Linked DNA regions of Homo sapiens. The protein of the gene in region 1 purifies or fractionates together with the protein of each later gene. This does not show direct contact. Each region holds a gene or a part of one and is shown in the gene's direction. Other genes may lie near its edges.

What was found.
Region 2: the proteins of MECR (region 1) and SNX30 purify together in Homo sapiens (affinity purification with mass spectrometry; one large-scale study listed by BioGRID and IntAct). This does not show direct contact.
Region 3: the proteins of MECR (region 1) and DNPEP fractionate together in Homo sapiens (co-fractionation; one large-scale study listed by BioGRID). This does not show direct contact.
Region 4: the proteins of MECR (region 1) and SNX4 purify together in Homo sapiens (affinity purification with mass spectrometry; one large-scale study listed by BioGRID and IntAct). This does not show direct contact.

What each region holds. Positions count from the first base shown.
Region 1 is NC_000001.11:29,199,308-29,204,601, reverse strand, and holds part of MECR (enoyl-[acyl-carrier-protein] reductase, mitochondrial), read left to right. Parts: intron 1-1,368; coding exon 1,369-1,471; intron 1,472-2,556; coding exon 2,557-2,659; intron 2,660-3,083; coding exon of another isoform or gene 3,084-3,228; intron 3,229-4,012; coding exon 4,013-4,086; exon of another isoform or gene 4,087-4,192; intron 4,193-5,294. UniProt on the Homo sapiens protein: Catalyzes the NADPH-dependent reduction of trans-2-enoyl thioesters in mitochondrial fatty acid synthesis (fatty acid synthesis type II).
Region 2 is NC_000009.12:112,830,094-112,835,387, forward strand, and holds part of SNX30 (sorting nexin-30), read left to right. Parts: intron 1-631; coding exon 632-790; intron 791-5,294. UniProt on the Homo sapiens protein: Involved in the regulation of endocytosis and in several stages of intracellular trafficking. Together with SNX4, involved in autophagosome assembly.
Region 3 is NC_000002.12:219,376,785-219,382,078, reverse strand, and holds part of DNPEP (aspartyl aminopeptidase), read left to right. Parts: coding exon 1-100; intron 101-494; coding exon 495-534; intron 535-642; coding exon 643-744; intron 745-5,294.
Region 4 is NC_000003.12:125,498,575-125,503,868, reverse strand, and holds part of SNX4 (sorting nexin-4), read left to right. Parts: intron 1-5,294. UniProt on the Homo sapiens protein: Involved in the regulation of endocytosis and in several stages of intracellular trafficking. Plays a role in recycling endocytosed transferrin receptor and prevent its degradation.

The sequences.
Region 1 (5,294 bases):
AAGAATTACATTTTATATTGTGATCAGTTTATACAAATAGGAATATATATATAATGGAAACCAAAGTTTCGTGAAATACCCTTACTATGTGTGACATACTCTGTTATTTTTTATTCTCTTCTCAATTTTAACTTTAAAAAAAAAAGGTGCTTGCAACCAACTAGATTGATTCATAATCCACTGGTGGGTGACAACCTGTACGTTGACCCCTGGTGAAGACGAGTGGGCATTCTTCTTCCAGGAAGTCCTCTATCTCTAGTTTCAGCCCGTTGTGTGACAGATCCCTGCTGCCTCTCAAAAACCAGATAGCATTTCAAATTCAACAAAGCACTTTCCCGGACACGATGCATTTGACTCTAATCGGGGGCACTTTTTTTTTTTAATAGAGGGAGTCTCGCTCTGTCACCCAGGCTGGAGTACAGTGGCGCGATCTCAGCTCACTGCAACCTCCACCTCCCGGGTTCAAGCGATTCTCCTGCCTCAGCCTCCCTAGTAGCTGGGATTATATTTTAAGGGAAGGAAACTGAAGTTCACAGAGGTCATGACTTGCCCTGTCTGTTTAGTTACAATCATTGGTGAAACTGAGACTCATGCCCAGATCTGTCTCATTCCAGAGCCCACATTTTTCCCAGCATGTCACACCGCCTTCCCCAATGGCCAGGTCCAAAGCTAAACCTGGGCTTTGCCACAGAACTGTAGGACCCTGTTTCAGGGGCTGCCAGTTTCTCCAGCGCAGCTGTAATCCCATTTCAAGGCAGTGCACCTTTATTAAACACTGCAGAGAGGAATAGGGCATGACCCTTCCCTCTCAAGAAGCTGCAAGCTGTTGATAGAAATGGACCTATATACAATGAAGTGTAAGATGGGGCAGACCGTGGTATGTGCATTAATACAGATGCCCACAGAGCACTGTGGGAGCACATAGAGGGAACAATCCAGGAAGGCTTCATGAAGGCTGCACTTGAGCTGCGCTTCAAAGGATCTACAGGATTTCAATAGGAAGGAAGAGAGAAGGAGGGAAACATTGCAAACCAAGGAAATAACCTAAGTAAAGACTTGAGGACATAAAAGTTGGGAGGATGACGAAGGCTATAAAATATTTTACATAGCAGGGCAGGGTCTAAATTATATCCAGTGTAGATGCTGAGTTGCCAAGTCCTGGGAGGCATCGTGAGTGTTGTGGAAGTTTAGGAGGCATTAGGAGAACAGTGAGAAACAGTGGAAGGTCTGAGAAGACTCAGCAGCCAGGTCCTGGGTCCCTGTTGAGCCTGAGGACTCCCTTGCCTACAGAAGGATCCCCGGCTGGGAGCCTTTGACCTATTGCAGATCTATACAGGGCTTGATTTGGTTCTCTTCCTGGCTCCACAGGGGATTCTGTCATCCAGAATGCATCCAACAGCGGAGTGGGGCAAGCAGTCATCCAGATCGCCGCAGCCCTGGGCCTAAGAACCATCAATGTGGTCCGAGACAGGTGCGTGGGGAAGGAGGCTTCATCCCAGACCATGTCTTGGGTCTTTCCCACCTCCCATCCCTGCGGTGCCCAGTTGTCCACCAGAGGGCGCCCTTGCATAAGCATAAACTGGCTTTAGGCATCGCTAACAGTTGGCGGCTGAAACAGATGAGTCAGTCCTAAGAAATGAAGTCCAGCTGGCTTTTGGCGATAGGATGAGTGAATCTGACATGTAAAGAGAGGGCAGGAAGGAGGTGGAGACTGCCCTTACTGAATAGCTAAGACTTTCTGAGACTCTTGGCTTGTGATAACCTCATGTTTTCAAAACCCCAGTTGATATTTGGGAATGATTTGAGCTGTATTATTCTTTCTGTGAACTGTCTAACCCAAGGCCCCTTTACCCTTGCTTTTGTGTGGTACTTGGAAGTGCGCTAAATACAGACGTGAAGGAGACAGGGGCAGGTTTGTCATCTGTCTTTTACAGATGAGGAAACTGAAGTTTCAGGGAGCAGCTTGCCCTGGAAGACACAGCAAGTCAGTAATAGACTCGGTTTCCTCACTTACTCTCTTTCCATCATATCGTCCAGTTTCTCTAGGCCTCACTGTCCATGAATGTGGCTGTGGCTGTCATGGAAGCCCACTCTTAGTATAATCGACACCAGCTTCAGTTCCTCAGTTGTACTCGCAAAAATAATTCCATTTGCCTTAACCAAAGAGACCCAGAGCCACTCCTGGTCTAGACTGTGTATGTCCAACACTCTGAAGAACCACTTGAAAAGAGGGGGGAAGTGGAGTTTGTCCTTTCAGTAGAAGAAATCAGGAAGTTAAGTGACTTCTCCCTGGGCACAGATGGCTTCTAACACTATTGAGCTGTCAGGGCCTGTGAAAACCACCCAGTCTCACTCTGTTGCCAGTGAGGAGACAGCCAAGAGCTATTGAAGCTGCATGAAATTAGGTGGCTGGTCCCTGCTCAAGCCTGGCTTAAACCTAATCCCAGCTTCCTGCAAAAAGAAGCACGGGTTCTCCCAGCTGTGGCAGAGAGGTCCTGGGGGGCTTTGGTGGAAAAAGCTGGCAGATGTGACCAGGGACCTATGTTTGGTTTCCAGACCTGATATCCAGAAGCTGAGTGACAGACTGAAGAGTCTGGGGGCTGAGCATGTCATCACAGAAGAGGAGCTAAGAAGGCCCGAAATGAAAAACTTCTTTAAGGTACCTAGGAAGAGGGACATTGCCCCTCCAGTCCACGCACATCTCCCTGAAGAAAGTTGACATGCATTAGAGAAACTGGGGACTGGCCCCATTGTTCCTCTCTGGAAACCTCCCTTTGCCTCTTGGTTGGTTAAAGCCCATTCCCCCTAGCCAGGCGGCAGGCAGCACGCATTAAGTGCCCAGATGCTGGGAGGGAGGCATGAGAAACAGAGTTTAGGAAACCCAGTATGACTTGCAGTTTAAACGTTTGTGGTGGGCCGCATCAGCCCACATGTGTGACTCTTAGAACTGGCAGGAGAGGACCTGAGGAAACAGAGACACAGAAAGAGAAAGAAAAGAAGTAACCTTTCCCAACCACCTGCCTTACATTTTATCTGATGATTTCCACAAAAGCTTTTCAAAGGAACTGTTATCTGTTTTACAGATTAGGAAACTAAGACTCAGAAAAGAGGAAATGCTTAACCAAAATCATATAGTTTATAAGGGCTCCAGAGAGTCAGAGCTGGCCTCAGTCTCTCCGAACTCAAAGCCTCTTAACCTTCCAGAACCTCCACCCCACAACATGCCTAGTAAGTGACCAGACCCTCAGCCCCTTTTCACTGAACCATCTGGAGGAACCAAAGACACACACTCAAGAGCATGCGCTTCTTGCGAACATTTCTGAAGCAGTAGATCAGCATATATAATATCAGCTGAGTCAAAGAACTGAAAAGGGGGGCACACAGGGAGCTGAAACCCACCAAACTGCATGCAGATGCCCTTTGCCTATTCTTTCCCAGAGAAGATGAGTTCTGCCAGGTCCTAAAATGGACAACAGGATTAAGTTGCTACAGAAAAGGCCCTTCTTGGCTGGATGAGGTGACTCATGCCTGTAATCCCAGCACTTCGGGAGGCCAAGGCAGGCGGATTGCTTGAGTCTGAGAGTTTGAGACTAGCCTGAGCAACATAGTGAGACCTCTGTCTCTACAAAAAAACATTTTTTTTTAATTATCTGGTCATCATGATACTCATCTGCAGTCCCAGCTACTTGGGAGGCTGAGGTGGGAGGATTGCTTGAGCCCAGGAGGGTAAGGTAGCAGTGAGCCATGATTGCACCACTGCACTCCAGCCTGGGTAACAGAGCGAGACCCTGTCTTAGAAAGAAAAAGAAAAAAGAAAGAAAAGACACTTCCTAAGCAGAGAAAAAGGTGAGTTCAAAGGCATAAACACACACACATATACATAAGTACGTGCACGCAAACAAAGGCATAAACATCTCATTTACTCCCTCCTTTTAACACAGCACTTGGGCAAGCTTCAGACCCCATATGTAGAGCGGGGATGCTCCCTCACTGCACTTTTGTTGTTTTCCAGGACATGCCCCAGCCACGGCTTGCTCTCAACTGTGTTGGTGGGAAAAGCTCCACAGAGCTGCTGCGGCAGTTAGCGTAAGTCCCTTGGGCCTGCAGGTCCAGCTCGCCAGAGCTCTCCAGGTCTTTAGCTGGGAGGACCATCAAGTGACTGAGTCCCATCGCCAGTTCGAGCCAAGTCCAGGTCAGCACAATGTTGAGTGGAAACTAGGACCAAAGTCATCCAGCTATTTGGGCACTGGTTTCTCAGCCTTCCCCTTTGCAGATGACCAAAATTTTGGCCTATCCAGCTTTATTTTTCCAAGGGACCCCAGAAGTAGACTGCTAAGCTGCCTGCCATAGAGGAATAGTCAAGGATTTATAACCTAGGGATGTCTGAAAAAGTCACTTAGTCCTAACTTATTTAACCTTTCAAAATTTGTATTAGCTTTTAAAATAGATTCTAATTTTAAAGGTAACATTATGCTTATTACAAAACATTTTGAAAACATGTAAAAGTGCAAAGGAAAACTTAAGCATAAAAGTTTCCTGTTGGCTGGGCACTGTGGCTCATGCCTATAATCCCAGTAATTTGGGAGGCCAAGGAGGAAGCATCACTTGAGGCCAGGAGTTCGAGACCAGCCTGGGTAACATAGTGAGACCCCATCACTACAAAAAAAAAAATTAATTTTTTTTTTAAGTTACCTGGCCAGGCATAGTGGTTCATGCTTGTAATCCCAACAAGACAGGCAGATCACTTGAGGCCAGGAGTTTAAGACCAGCCTGGCCAACATGGCAAAACTCCATCTCTACTAAAAATACAAAAAGACTAGCCAGGTGTGGTGGCAGGCACCTGTAATCCCAGCTACTTGGGAGGCTGAGTCACGAGAATCATTTGAATCCAGGAGGTGGAGGTTGCAGTGAGCCGAGATCACACCACTCTACTCCAGCCTGGGTGACAAAGGGAGATTCCATCTCAAAAAAGAAAAAAAAAAGTTACCTATCACCCCACTACCAAGGGGGATAAGCCCTGTTGACAATATTAATGCATGTCCTTCCATTCTTCTTTCCCTTAATATAAGCTTCTAGGCCGGGCGCAGTGGCTCAAGCCTATAATCCCAGCACTTTGGGAGGCTGAGGCGGGCAGATCACGAGATCAGGAGATCGAGACCATCCTGGCTAACACGGTGAAACCCCGTGTCTACTAAAAATACAAAAAATTAGCCAGGTGTGGTGGCGGGCACCTGTAGTCCCAGCTGCTCAGGAGTCTGAGGCAGGAGAATGGCGTGAACCCCGGAGGCAGAGCT
Region 2 (5,294 bases), on another chromosome or scaffold:
CAGGTAGTTTTAAATTGCCCACAGTATTGACTCTAAGTCAGTATAATAGAGAAATGTATTTGAATAAGGGGAATAAAGGAAATTACGTTTTAAATAACTTTTGAGTATAAACCTAAACCAAAAAATTGGCCTATAAAAGGTATTTTTTTTAGATACATGAATTTACCTAATTTATTCATTCACCAAGTATGAATGGGGAATGAAGTACTGGGAGCAGAATCTTAAAATATTTAAATAAATTTTTATGTGGTTGATGCCTGCCTGCCTGCTTGCCTTCTTTCTTTTCTTTTTCTTTTTCTTCTTTTCTTTTCTTCTTGCCATAACTTTTCCATCATATCACGTGTACATCAAGCAATGTAAAAATTACTGTTGAATTTACTGGATAAATATCTACTTTTCTGTATTTCAGAGACTATAATTTAGTGTTTTATTCCTTGCATTATAAAATTGACAGGGTATTTACTCCATGTGTATTTTTCAGAAGTCTTTATATTAATGACTACATGAAGATCTGCCTGATTAAGAAATACTTTTCTTGGATAGAGGGGTAATAGAACTGTGTGCTAGCCTGGTTGTTTTTCCTTGCACCATCTCATCAATTACTCTGGTTTTTTTCTTCATGTCTTCATAGCCTCTTCCCGAGAAGTTTGTGGTAAAAGGTGTTGTGGATCGTTTTTCAGAAGAGTTTGTGGAGACCAGAAGAAAAGCTTTGGATAAATTTCTAAAAAGAATTACGGACCATCCTGTGCTGTCTTTCAATGAACACTTTAATATTTTCCTTACTGCTAAGGTAAGGGCAGAAATTTACATCCTCTTCGTCCATATTACCATTCTTGGGGCTCTTTCCTAAAAGCTGTTTTGAGCAGGACTCGGTCTCTACAAAAACTTTTAACAAATAGCCGAGTGTGATGTTGTGCGCCTGTAGTCCCAGCTACCTGGGAGGCTAAGGCAGGAGGTAGCTTGAGCCCAGGAGTTTGAGGCTTCAGTGAGCTATGATCGTGCCACTGCACTGCAGCCTGGGTGACAGAGTGAGACCCTATCTCTTTAAAAAAAAAAAAAAAAAAAGCGGTTTTGATCTTTCAGAAGCCACCTTCATGAGCAAATGGTTCACTGTAACAGGGTTGTCATAAAATTGGTCTTTTTTTGGGTGCCTGTGTCCATTAGCATGCTTTTTTGCATTAGCAAATCCATATAGATGGATTCTATGTTAGAATTTAGGAGATCTGTCCCCACCCCATCCGGGGCCCCACCCACTTGCAGCAGCAGAGGAAGTTAGAATATTTGCTCTGCCAAAAGCAGAGCTAAGTGTTTCCTTAAACACTTGGCAGTATTACTGGGTGAGGCCAGTCTGACCAACAATGGGCATGGAACAGAAGGAACATTTGAGTGTTTGGTGAGGGTTTTCTTCTTAAGGGCGCTTTGAGTGATTACTTGCAGCTGCATTTTACAGACAAGGAAACTCAAGTTCCAGGAGCTTGTCCTTGTTCAGGTAGCGTCACTAGGATCTCAAATTAGGTCTTTGTGGCTACTGAGGCCACACCGTCCCTGTGTATCAGACTGCCTGATTGTTACTTAACCTGCAACCATGTTCCTGTCAGGTGGACATTTGCCAGATAAAACATTTGGGTCCTACACAGTTGCCAGATTCTGTGTATTCAAACTCAAGTTGGTTGTCCACTGGCCTTTCTCTGCACTTCCCTGTTGGCAGAACTGGCCAGAAAACCTGAGGTGCTGTGCTCTCGCTGTCTGCAGAAATGGGGTCACATGCTCAGACCCTCCTGCTAGCTTCCCTCTAGTCCCATCTGTTTGGTTTCAGGTATCATATTCCCATGTTCAGGCCATATGTAACATGTTCCATGTTGGCAAGGGTATTGTGGTCCAGATACTTTCTAGTTTTTCAAATCTGCAAAATTGGGAAATAGCTATAGATAACATTAGGTGACATTAAAGACTTCGGAGAGTGTGCCGTTCTTCACTCAGTGGAAGCCGCATGACAGAGTCCTTTAGTTTTTATAACCTCAGTTGGCATTGAGCCTTATTGATGACATTCCAGTTCAGCATCTCTTTTTCCCAGAGGCTTTCCCCCCCTACAGGTTGGACAGGTACACTTTTTAAAACTAAGTATTTCCTGGCAAACTAAACCTCAGGTATAATTCCTTCAACTCATACTCAAAGTAGAATACATCCTATTCTCCAAAAGCACAACTCACTTTCTCCCCCAAGGTCCATTTTCCAGAAAGCCCTTAAGCACATTCATGTTTACTGAACAAAAAAGAAAAGGGAGGGAAAAGCTTGGACCCCTGGTTGTTAGGAATCTGTATGAAGAATAAGTAGGAAAGAGAGAGAGAGAGAGAGAGAGAGAGAGAGTGTGTGTGTGTGTGTGTGTGTGTGTGTGTGTGTGTGAGAGAGAGAGAGAGAGGAGATTTATCTATCTGTGGGCCAGGCAGTATGAAAATGACTTAAAAAATATAAGGTCCTTATATGAGAACACATGGACACAGGAAGGGGAACATCACACGCCGGGGACTGTTGTGGGGTTGGGGGAGGGGGGAGGGATAGCATTAGGAGATATACCTAATGCTAAATGACGAGTTAATGGGTGCAGCACACCAACATGGCACATGTATACACATGTAACAAATCTGCACGTTGTGCACATGTACCCTAAAACTTAAAGTATAATAATAAAAAATTTAAAAAAAATTAGAAAAAATATATATTATATATTAATATATAATAAATATATTAATATATAATATATAATAAATATAATATATATAAAATATCTATATATATAAGGTCCTTTACTGCCTTAATCAAAATCCGACTCCATATGAGTGAATACAGGAGAGGTGGCTTTAAACAGAACAAATTTTAGCCCTAATTCAGTATCGCTTGCTGAACAAAATGTGCTAAATGGCCTTATCTTTTCTTTAAAAATTTTTAAAATTGTGATAAAATACACCTAACATTTACTATCCTAACAATTTCTAAGTGTACAGTTCAGTAGTGTTAAGTATATTTAAATTAGTTATGCAGCTCATCTTCAGAACGTTTGCATCTTGCAGATCTGAAACTCTATGCCCATTAAATGGCAGCACCCTATTCCCCCTCTTCCAGCTGCCTCATTTTTTCCTTTAACATACCTTGAATAACTTGATCTTGTTCTGAGATGAGCCACTTACGTGTTCTGCCTTAGGGAATGCAGAGACGCTCTTCCTTTTCTTTGTGATCACATGAGTTTATCAACAAATTAGAAATGTCCTTAAGAAGAAGCCAAAAGGCTGTATGTAATGGCTCATGCCTGTAACACCCAGCGCTTTGGGAGGCCAAAGCAGGTAGACCACCTGAGCCCAGGAGTTCATGTTCAGTCTGGGCAACATGGTGAGACCCCATCTCTATATATTAAAAAGAAGCAGCAGCAGCAGCCAGTAGTAATACTGGGAGAAATGGGGACGCTCAATAGCAACTATATTCAAGTCAATATTTTCATCTTTGGCAGAGTGGGTACAGCAATCAGATGGATACTGCTGAATAACTTTATTCAACATGTAAATTAACTTGGTTAACGGGGACACGCTTTCAAAGCTCTACTTGAAGCGGAGCCTGTGCAGTCCAGCGAGCCCATTTGACTCTAGTCCCACTCGTAAAAACGCTGTCTGCAGAGGTAATTCCAAGAACTCTGAGGCTTCAGTTATAGTCTTGTGAAGGCCTTGTGCCTTTGAGGATGTTTCTTGTCTAGAATGTGGGAGGTCAGAAGGGGAGATGGAATCTTTAGGACACTCTCTCAGGCAGCCTGACTCTGAAGGAAACGAGAGAGGTGGAGAGGAACTAGAGGAGATTGCTGCTGTTTTTAAGATGGGTCAGCCTTGGGTGTATTTTACATGCTGAAGGATTAGAAGTTGAAGATACAGACAGGAGAGGGGATAATTGGTAGGGCAAGGCCCTCGGTTGGGGGAAGGTATGGATAGGTGTTCCAGAAAAACTCTCAAACCATGGTTTTCCTCTGCTCTCAGGCAACAACAGTTGTCATCAACACAGGAGAAGACTTCTGTGACCAAATTGCGGGGTGGGGGTGGGGGCGAGATTTTCCCCAAACACCAAGCAGCCATTGCCAGCTGGATGTCCACCAGTTTAATTTGCACATTATTTGCCTGGACATAGCATCAGATCCCACAGGTTGAGGACTCAGTCCTCAAGTCTGAGAGCTTCCAGATCTCGGACCTTAAGTTCAAGCCTCCAAAACTTCTGACCAGCCAGCTTCAAGTTGGGCTTCCCGTGACCTCTTCTTTGGGTTCCATTAATTTGCTAGAGCAATTCACAGAACTCAGAGAAACACATTTACCAGTTTATTATAAATGATATCACAAAGGATACAGATGAAGAGTTGCATTGGGCGAGGCGTGGGGGAAGGGGCGTGGAACTTCCATGCCCTCCCTGGGTGTAGCACCCTTCAGGAAACTCCACATGTTCAGCTCTCCAGAAGTTCTCTAAACCCAGCTCTCTTGGGTTTTTGTGGAAGCTTCGTGACAGCAGCATTCCATCCTCCAGGGTGTAGGGAGGGACCTTAGTCAGAAAGGCTGGGGAAGATTCGAGTCCTGCCTTGGGGCAGGTGAAAGGAGGGCAGGGGAAGGACAGAGAGATTCTGTTTCCTGAGGCTTAACACACCCAACATTATAGTGAAAAGACTGGAACAAGGTCTGTGGAGGTTATGAGCCAGGAACCGTGGATTAAACACACACACACACAAACACACACACACACACACACACACACACACACACACACACCTACCTCAATAGGAAAGGCTGGATCAAGAGCAAAAATGAAGGCCTAAAGAAGGAAGCGAAGAAGGAAGTGAATTCACGAGGTGCCTACACTCAGATACTATAGAGACCTCAGCCTGAAATTGTACATCAAATGCGGAGGGGCTGTTGGGCCATGTTAGCCGCACATTCCACATTCTCTGCTCTATCCTCTGCATCAGGCCACGTCACCAGAAAGCTGTGTCCTTGTTCTGGGTTCCTTTATCTCCCTCTAGTTATACCCTTCTAGGTCTGGGGATTAACATTCTGTTTGTATTGAGGGTGGATATGAGGAACAGACACCTGTACCTTCTGTAAAACCATTTTGTAAGCTACCCTTTCAGTAGGTGACACAGGACAACCTGAAGATTGTATAGATTCCTCTTAGTGTTTGATGATAGGAGGAAGCTTGTTTTATCAGGCAGGCTAATATGCTTTTCTTTTTTGCCCAGGCTGGAGTGAAGTGGCACGATCTCAATTCATTGCAAC
Region 3 (5,294 bases), on another chromosome or scaffold:
TCTCAGCCTCGTGCCAGCACCCGACAGCCTTCGAGGAAGCCATACCCAAGTCCTTCATGATCAGCGCAGACATGGCCCATGCTGTGCATCCCAACTACCTGTGAGTCTCTAGTGCCAGTCACACAGTCTTCACATAGCTGGAGACCCAAGCATAACCTGCCTTGAGGCTCTGCCTTGGCCCCAGCCTCTTCCTTTCTCCCTTCTTCATTCTGCCGGGAGGTTCACGGGCACTTCCTTTTCACTACTGCGAGACCAACTTGGTCAAAGTCATGCAATGCCTAACCCAGGTGTGTGGAATACACCTTTGTCTACAAACTTGTTTCCATCTATTGCTAGAGGCTGCCCGGAACCCTGTGTGTGGAATGACTCTGAAGTCCCACTGGGCTGGGCGGGAAAGAGTGGTGATCTATTAGTGATGTCTGCCATGGGAGGGTGGTGAGTGTCGACAGGCCTGCTCCTGTTTGCTATGTCTGGCCCTTATCTGTCTCTTACAGGGACAAGCATGAGGAGAACCACCGGCCTTTATTCCACAAGGTGAGACGTGCCATTTCTCCCTAGGGACTTGGAGGTCTGGCTGTTCCGAGCGCCGACTCATTCCCTTTGGGCCTGTCATTACCTCTGCCTCACCTTGACTCTCCCCAGGGCCCCGTGATCAAGGTGAACAGCAAGCAACGCTATGCTTCAAACGCGGTGTCAGAGGCCCTGATCCGAGAGGTGGCCAACAAAGTCAAGGTCCCCCTGCAGGTGAGGGTGGGCCCTGCCTGGGAAGGTGTGATGGAGGGAGCTTGGTGGGGGCACAAACAGATGGGCCCCCCATGAACAGGGAACCTGGTAGATGGCCTTGAGTGGAGGGGGGTCCCAGTAGAGTGAGAAAAGCAGGGATTTTGGATACAGCTGGATTCCATGCTGGCTCTGCTGCAGTGCTAGCTGTGTGACCTTGGACTAGTCTCCTAACCTTTCTGAGTCTCAGTTTCCACATCTGTAGAATAGGGGTGATAGTGATGCCTACTTTGCTGGATTTCTATGAAGACTGAAGGTACAGTGTGCTCCTGGCACATGGTAGGCCTGTCTTTCCCTGCAGCACCCCCACTTCCCCTGTGTCTCCTACACACCCTGGGGGCTTCCACAGGGAAAGTTCAGGGCTGGGGAGTATGGAACTCCAACTACTCATTTTCTCTCTTGCCTGAGAAATTAGACATCTAGTCCTTTCTCCTCAGTGTGTGTGTGTGTGTGTGTACATATATATGTTGTATACATGTATGTATATAACACATGACAGTATTGTGTATACACATATACACACATATATACTGTCATGCATTGCTTAACAACAGGGATACATTCTGGGAAATGGCATCATTAGGCAATTTTGTCATTGTGTGAGCATCATGGAGTATATGTACACAAACCTAGACGGACAGCCTGCTGCACACCTAGGTTGTGTGGTGTAGCCCATTGCTCCTAGGCTACAAACCTGTACGGCTTCTTACTGTGCTGAAAACTGTAGGTAACTGTAACAAAATGGTCAGTGTATCTAAACATAGAAAAGGTACAGAAGGCCAGGCGTGTTGGCTCACACCTGTAATCCCAGCATTTTGGGAGGCCAAGACAGGCAGATCACTTGAGGTCAGGAGTTCAAAACCAGCCTGGCCAACATGGTGAAACCCCATCCTACCAAAAAATACAAAAATTAGGCAGGCGGAGTGGTGCATGCCTGTAGTCCCAGCTACTTGGGAGGCCTTCCCTACTTGGGAAGGATCTCTTGAGCCCGGGAGGTGGACGTTGCAGTGAGCCGAGATCGTGCCATTGCACTCCAGCCTGGGCGACAGAGTGAGACCCTGTCTCCAAAAAAACAAAACCAAAAAAAAAAAAAAAAGAAAAGAAAAAGAAAAGTTACAGGAAGCATATGGTATAAAAGATTTAAAATGGTCCACCTGTATAGGGCACTTAGGAATGGAGCTTACGGCACTCGAAGTTGCCCTGGGTGAGTGGTGAGTTAATGTGAAGGCCTAGGACATTACTGTACACTATTGCAGACTTTATCAATGCCGGACACTTAGGCTACACTACATTTATTTTGAAAATTGTATTTCTTCAACAATAAATTAGTTTACTGTAACTTTTTAACTTTATTTATTTATTTATTTATTTATTTATTTTTGAGATGGAGTCTCACTCTGTCACCCAGGCTGGAGTGCAGTGGCACGATCTCGGCTCACTGCAACCTCTGCCTCCCAGGTTCAAGCGATTCTGCCTCAGCCTCCTGAATAGCTGGGATTACAGGCACGCACCACCATGCCTGGCTAATTTTTGTATTTTTAGTAGAGACGGGGTTTCACCATGTTGGTCAGGCTGGTCTCGAACTCCTGACCTTGTGATCCGCCCGCCTCGGCCTCCCAAAGTGTTGGGATTACAGGTGTGAGCCACTGCACCCGGCCAACTTTTTTACTTTATAACCTTCCATTTTTAAAATTTTTGACTCCTTTGTAACAACAGTTGGCTTAAAACACAAACACATAGTACAGCTATTCAAAAGTATTTTCTTTTTTGTATCCTTATTCTGTAAGCTTTTTTCTATTTTTAAAATTTTTCGTTATTTTTAAAATTTTTAAACTTTTTGGTTAAAAACCAAGACACAAACATACACATTAGCCTAGGCCTATACAGGGTCAGGATTATCAATGTCCCTGTCTTCCACCTCCACATCTTGTCTCACTGGAAGGTCTTCAGGGAGAGTGACATGCAGGGAGCTGCTATCTACCATGATAACAATGTGCTCCTAAAGGACCTGCCTGAGGCTGTTTTACAGTTAACTTTTTTTTTTTTTTCTAATAAGTAGGAGTACATTCTAAAATAACAGTAGGCTGGGCATCGTGGCTCATGCCTGTAATCCCAGCACTTTGGGAGGCCGAGGCGGGTGGATCACTTGAGGTCAGGAGTTCAAAACCAGCTGGCCAACATGGTGAAACCCCGTCTCTACTGAAAATACAAAAATTATCTGGGCATGGTGGTGTGCGCCTGTAATCCCAGCTACTCAGGAGGCTGAGACAGGAGAATCGCTTGAACCCAAGAGGCAGAGGTTGCAGGGAGCCAAGATGGTGCCATTGCACTCCAGCCTGGGCGACAAGAGTGAAACTCCATCTCAAAATAAATAAATAACAATAAAAAGCATAATATAGTAAACACATAAACCATAACATAGTCATTTATTATTCTTAGGTATTGCATACTGTACATAATTGCACGTGTTATGCTTTTATACGACTGGCAGTAGATTTATTTACGCCGGCATCGCCACAAACAAGTGAGTCATGCATTATGCCACAACATCGCAACAGCTGTGATGTCACTAGGCGACAGGAATTTTTCAGCTCCATTATAATCTTACGGGACCACTGTCATATGTAGTCTATCTTTGACTGAAATGTCACCATGTAGTGCATGACTGTCTATTTCTATATTTATCTGTCTACCTCTCTATATCAGGGACTCAGGCATGGGCGGTCCAGTGACAATCATAGCAGGTGTAGAACCGTGGTATCCTGACTCCCAGCCCAGGGCTCTTTCTGCTGCACAGTGTTCACTCTTCCTTTCGGAAAGCTGAATTGTTCTGCCCCCAGGAAGCCTTCTCTGAGGACGTGATATTTGAGCTGAGACCTAACCACTGAGAAATAGGCAGCTATGGGAGGGTCCCAGCCAGAGGGCACAAGTAGAAAGGCCCCAAGGGGGGCCAGGAATGAGCTCGTCTTTTAGGAGGAGAGAAAGGCAGGATGGTAGAGCCAGGATGAGAGCAGGAGAGGGTTAGGGGAGAGGCCCAGCTCAGTGATGATACAGGAATACCTAGGCCATGGAAGGACATTTCAATTTTATTCTAAGGCAGTGAGAAGACATTGGGAGATTTTTCTTTAATAATTTACAGCAGAAGTAGGACACATGTATTTTAGAAAATTAGAAAATACAGATAGAGATGAGAAAATAAAACACTAATCTGCAGAAATTTGGTATAGTCTTCCAGATTTTTTTCTATGCATAAACTTCATATACACTTTTTTAAAATGATATTATATTGGATATATTTTTGTTGCCTCTTTTCACTCAGTCATCTTCACCTTTCTATTTGAGTTTGGTTTTTTTTTTTAATGTTTTTTTAAAATTAGAAACAGGGTCTTGCTTTGTCTCCCAGGCTGGAGTGCAGTGGCATGATCATAGCTCACTGCACCCTCAAACTCCTGAGCTCAGAAGATCTTCCTGCCTCAGTCTCCCAAGTAGCTGGGACTACAGATGCATGCCACCATGCTGGCTAATTTTCTATTTTTAGTAAAAATGGGGTTCTTGCTATGTTGCCCAGGCTGGTCTTGAACTCCTGGCTTCAAGCAGTCCTCCCACCTTGGCCTCCCAAAGTGCTAGGATTACAGGCATGAGCCACCATTCCCAACCCCATTTCAGGAAATTGTTGTTTCAGTAAACTTGTACCTCATCTAATGCACAGATCACTTTCCGTTTTCCCCAGTTATCCTCAAAATATTTTTTTTACAGGTATTTGGCCCACCCTAGTATCCAACTCAGGACAATGCGTTATATTTGGCTGATATGTTGCTTAAATGTCTTCCAGTGTAGCACAGTTCCCCCCACCCCTTTTTAAATAGCATTGGCTTATTCAAGAAACTTCTGGATATGTCTCCTTGCTGCCCCATGGTGTCATTTAGCTTGTCTGTAAGCCCCGTATTTCCTATCAACTGGAATTTCTAAAGACTTGATGGATTCAAGTTAAACTTTTTTTTTTTTTTTTTTTTTTTTTTTTGACAGAGTGAGAGTTTCACTCTGTCGCCCAGGCTGGAGTCTAATGGCGTGATCTCGGCTCATTGCAACCTCCGCCTCCCTGGTTCAAGTGATCCTTCTGTCTCAGCCTCCAAAGTAGCTGGGATTACAAGTGTGCACCACGATGCCCAGCTAATTTTTGTATTTTTAGTAGAGACAGGGTTTCACCATATTGGCCAGACTGGTCTTGAACTCCTGACCTCAAGTGGTCCGCCCACCTCAGCCTCCCAAAGTGCTGGGATTACAGGTGTGAGCCACCGTGCCTAGCCTCAAGTTAAACATTTTGGGCTAGAAGACATGGCTGGTGTATTCATATGGCATCACACACATGATATCTGGGTGGGCCACCCTTAGCCTTGCAAAGATTGACCACTGGACCAGGAATGGCCTCTTATCCTTTCATTATATAGTGCTTTTCCCCTATTGACCTGACAGTGACCCATACAAGTGATGAGTTCCCTATTAACCAGATACCT
Region 4 (5,294 bases), on another chromosome or scaffold:
GATACTCTTGGTAGATAGCTATATTTTAATGAATTTATTTTGTGGGGAGAGGGGAGGTTAGTGGAATACTTTTGGAATCTGGAATAAATAACATGTATCAAATAACGATACATGCTTTGGAGGATTCCTTGGTCTTAGAATCCCTGTGCAATTCTGTAAAAGAATACCAGGTTCTCTGGCATGTAGAAGTGAACTTGGGCAGGTGGAAATGGTTAACAAAGAATTCTAGGAGTAGAGAATAAGGTCTGAATCCTCTTAGGACAGTTGGGAGTTACAAAAAATTAACAAACAGAAACATTGAGATTGGTGCTTTAGAACTTGGAGTAAATTAAGAATAAAGGGAAGTAGACACCTTTAAAAAACAAAGAAAAAGAACTTGGTGAGTAAAAATAGAAAAGACAAATTATGGAGTAGGAAATAAAAACTCACCAGAAAAGTTGTCTTTTACCTCCTAAGGGAAAAGCTAAAGGAATTAGAGTTGTTTTGTCTAAAGAAAGGCAAGGGAAGACTCAATTTGTTGTTGTCAGTTATTAACAATTTATATAAAGAATAGTGTACTATTTCTTTTCTGTCTGCAGAGATTGAGCAGAAATGCTTTCAATTAAAACAAATAGATATGAGAGAATTGTTGATAGCCGGTAAAATTATAGACTACCAAACCTAGCTGGGCGTGGTGGCTCATGCCTGTAATCTCCGCACTTTGGGAGGCCAAGGCAGGCAGATCACCTGAGGTCAGGAGTTTGAGACCACCCTGGCCAACATGGCGAAACCCCGTCTCTACTAAAAATATGAAAATTAGCCAGGTGTGGTAGTCCCAGCTACTCGGGAGGCTGAGGCAGGAGAATCACTTGAACCTGGGAGGTGGAGATTGCAGTAAGCTGAGATTGCCACTGCACTCCAGCCTGGGTGACAGAGCGAGAGGCTGTCTCAAAAAAAGAAAAAAAAAAAAAACTACCAAACCAAGTTAAGTGTTATAACAATGTTTTAATGTTAATACTTTTTTTTTTTTTTTTTTGAGATGGAGTCTCACTCTGTCACCCAGGCTAGAGTGCGGTGGCGCGATCTCGGCTCACTGCAAACCCTGCCTCCCGAGTTCAAGTGATTCACCTGCCTTAGCCTCCCAAGTAGCTGGTATTACAGGCGCCCGTCACCATGTAGTTTTAGTAGAGATGGGGTTTCACCATGTTGGCCAGACTGGTCTCGAATTTCTGACCTCGTGATCCACCCACCTCGGCCTCCCAAAGTGCTGGGATTACAGGCACGAGCCACCGCATCCGGCCAATGTTAATACTTTTTTAAGAAAAAAAATTTTAACCTACCATTTTCATAGGCTTTACCTGTGAGCTTGCCTTAGTGCTGAACCCTGTGACTTTTCAAGGCTTCTTCCAGGTCTGTGTTTCTGCCTAAAATAAAAGTTTAAATCTTGGTGAAGATTGTCTACAGACAATTCTGAAAATTTAGTTTTCCTTCTACCAGAAAGAAAGAAAAAGAGAGAAAAGAATCTTCTAAAAAAAAAAAAGAAAGAAAATTTTTATACAGTAAGAAGTTTAGGAAATGAGAGAGGTAATGTGGTTCTTTTCAAACTTAGGTCATTTCATGACATATGTATGTTTATGTATCCCAGAGATTTGTAAGGTTATTTTTTAAAGATCATGGCCCTGTGAGAGGATTTTTGTTTCTGTTTTTTTGTTTTTTAAGTTAAATTAGCCACTTTAAAAATAATACTTTAGAAAACAGTGTTAGCTGTAGCCTTCTAAGTAAATTTTAAGTTTACAATGAAAAAGGATATATTTAGTATATGCCTGTTTTTTCACCCACATAGGTATTGATTACTTTTACTGCTAGGAGAGAACCTTGATTTGGATAATCTGGAATAACTTAATAATGTTTGTACTTGACTTTGAAATAAATAAAGGATCATTGTTTTCTTCTGTAGCCCAGTTCTAATTTGAACCTGGGAGTTAGAAGTGACCATACATCAGTAATAGCTAGACTGTGAATACATATTTAAGTAGATCATCAATAAATGTGTGGCACACAAAAGGATTATTGAGTCAACTTTCACAACTATATTTCAATATAAATTTATTTTAAAACATGGATTTTATACTTAAAAACATGTTGGAATTACTTGAAAAATTGGTTAAACAACTGCAGGATTTGGGGTAGGGCCCAGGATTTTACATTTTTTATTTAAAGGTCCAGCTGCTTTCAGTACAGATGGGCGATGGACCTTTTTTTTTTTTTTTAAGGTGGAGTCTCGCTCTGTCACCCAGGCTGGAATGCCGTGACATGATCTTGACTCACTGCAACCTCCTCTTCCCAGGTTCAAGTGATTCTCCCACCTCAGCTTCCCAAGTAGCTGGGATTACAGACTTGCACCACCACACCCAGCTGATTTTTGTATTTTTAGTAGAGATGGGGTTTTGCCATGTTGGCCAGGCTGGTCTTGAACTCCTGACCTCAGGTGATCTGCCTGCCTTGGCCTCCTCCCAAAGTGCTGGAATTACAGGTGTGAGCCAATGTGCCCAGCTGGACCATGATTTTGATTGTTGTCTTTTAAACTACAAAGGCTTTCCATTTTAAGACAGGTTTATCTGTCTTTTCTCTTTATGATTTATGTTTTTTCTGTTTTAAGAAATTCTTCCCTACTCCACATCATATAGACATGGGATTTGAGAAATACTGATTTTGAATAGATTGTTTTATACTATCCCTAAGGTTAACTGACCTTCATCAACCGCAATCATCAAATTTCTTAATTTAATTATGTAGTATTGTTTCTGTAATTCAGTGTTTTGCAGACAGTTGTGGACAATATGAATATTATTGACCCTTCATGTTAACTAGAAATTCAACTTCTGTCATGTAGCTTACCTACCTACCTACCTTCTGGATACAAGTAGAAAGCCCATTTAGCAACTGTCTGTAGTCCAATTGTCGAGAGGGTTTTGTTTCTGTAATTTTTTTTTTTTTTGTAAATTAGCCACCTAAAAAATACTTTAAAAATTAGTGTTAACTCTAGCTTCCAAAGTAAATTCTTTTTTTTTTTTTTTTTTTTTTTTTTTTGAGACGGAGTCTTGCTCTGTCGCCCAGGCTGGAGTGCAGTGGCACGATCTCAGCTCATTGCAACCTCCACCCTCTGGGGTTCACACCATTCTGCCTCAGCCTCCCGAGTAGCTGGGACTACAGGCGCGCAACACCACGCCTGGGTAATTTTTTGTATTTTTTAGTAGAAACGGGGTTTCACTGTGTTAGCCAGGATCGTCTTGATCTTCTGAGCTCGTGATCCACCCTCCTCGGCCTCCCAAAGTGCTGGGATTACAGGCATGAGCCACTGCGCCTGGCCAGTAAATTCTTAAGTTTAAAGTTAAACAGGATATTTTTGATATGTGCCTATTCTATAGTGTTATAGTTTAGTGGGCTAAGATTGAATAAAACTAAAGTCCCTGGTTTTTAATTCCCCAAGAGATTTTTGTATGTGTTCTTCTTCATTGAATAGGAACTCTTTTAAAATAAATATATGTCTCTTTTAGAATAGGTAGTAATGCCTTGATGGCTTGGAAGGCAGTATGTTATTAATTCTTTTAATTTGTAAAACATGGTTAATGATCATATTTTCATTGTGGGGGTTAAATATTACAAGTAAAACCATTTAGGTACTATTGAATAGTTGTTGAGTGATTAGATAAATGAGGTAGTTTTGGGGTCTAATGAAAGTCTTCTCTGTGCTTTTAGTCAGTTTATAATGAAACTACTAGACCCTGCCTTTTTGGGTTTTTTTTTTTGGTGTTTGTTTGTTTTTCTTGAGATGGAGTTTCGCTCTTGTTGCCCAGGCTGGAGTGCGTTGGCGCGATCTCAGCTCAGTGCAACCTCTGCCTCCCGGGTTCAAGCAATTCTCCTGTCTCAGCCTCCTGGGTAGCTGGGATTACAGGCACCTGCCACCACGCCCAGATAATTTTTTGTATTTTTAGTAGAGACGGGGTTTCACCATGTTCGCCAGGCTGGTCTCAAACTCCTGATCCACCCACCTTGACCTCCCAAAGTGCTGGGATTACAGGCGTGAGCCACCGCATCCAACCGCGTTTTTTTTTTTTTTTTTTTTTAAACACTTATGCAGACCTTCTATCAGCCCTGTAGGTGTACTGCTTATAGGCTTTATTTATCCACTTATTTACAAGTTTTGGGTTTTGTTGGTAGTGATTTTGAATAATTTGAAACTTGAGATTAACCCAAGTATTTTTCAGCTGAAGTTGGGCATTGTAATTGGGATAGTATTAGTTATAACTAATGTCTAGGTATACTCTTTAAAATGAATTATGATTTAATAATTCTATTTTTTTGCCATGGGAGCCATTTGTGAATTTTGCATTTCATATTTTGGTTCATTTTTATTAATATGCAATGAATAAATTTAGTAGCAAACTTAAAAAATGATAAAAATGAGCATCTATTGTGCTGAGCATGGCATGATGTAAATACTTTCTCTAGACTATTTGGAGACTGATTTAAGTTCTGTGACTTTTTGTCCTAATGTACAAATACACCTTGTGCATTTCATGGAGGGCAAACAGGTTATTGTCAAGCAAATTAGAAAATAGCAAGGTCCTGATAATGTTTAGAAGACTGGTGCTTCCTAATAGGTCTTACTTATGCTGGCAAGAAATCCTAAGTAGTCAAAATATTTAAAATATCCTTTATATGATTTTACCTTAACTTTCTGCCAAAAGTAAATTGAACTTTTGTATGTATGAGACATGGCATTGCCTACCAGCCCTTTATAATTAAAAGTAAGACTGGAGATGAATTTTTATGACCCCTCTTCGCCACTCTTTCAGAGCTAACTAATATTTTGTTCTTTTGGATATTTCTTGGTACTTGGATTAATCTGATTTATTAATAACCTAAATTGAAGTTTTTGTGGTGTCTTGGTCTTTGTTGTGAATGTTATTCTCTCATTTTGGCAGAAGTGAAGTTAAAAATGCTTTTTATTTAATGAAACACTAGCTAAACTAGATTTTATCATATTATAAAATCAATTATTTATGCATTAAGGCTTTTAGAGTGTTCCTAATAAAACTGTTTCTCTTATGTTTAAACAGGCTTTCTGTAACAGAAAGAAAGTGGTTAGGAGTAAGGGCTTTGAAATCAGATGGATCTGAGTGCTTTATCCACAGACCTTTGTGATCATAGGCAGAGCATATACTGTGCAGCTGTGTCCTCATCTGTAAAATGAGGATAATAAATCTCTGCCTCACAGGGTTGTCATAAGGATTAAATATGAAAATACATGA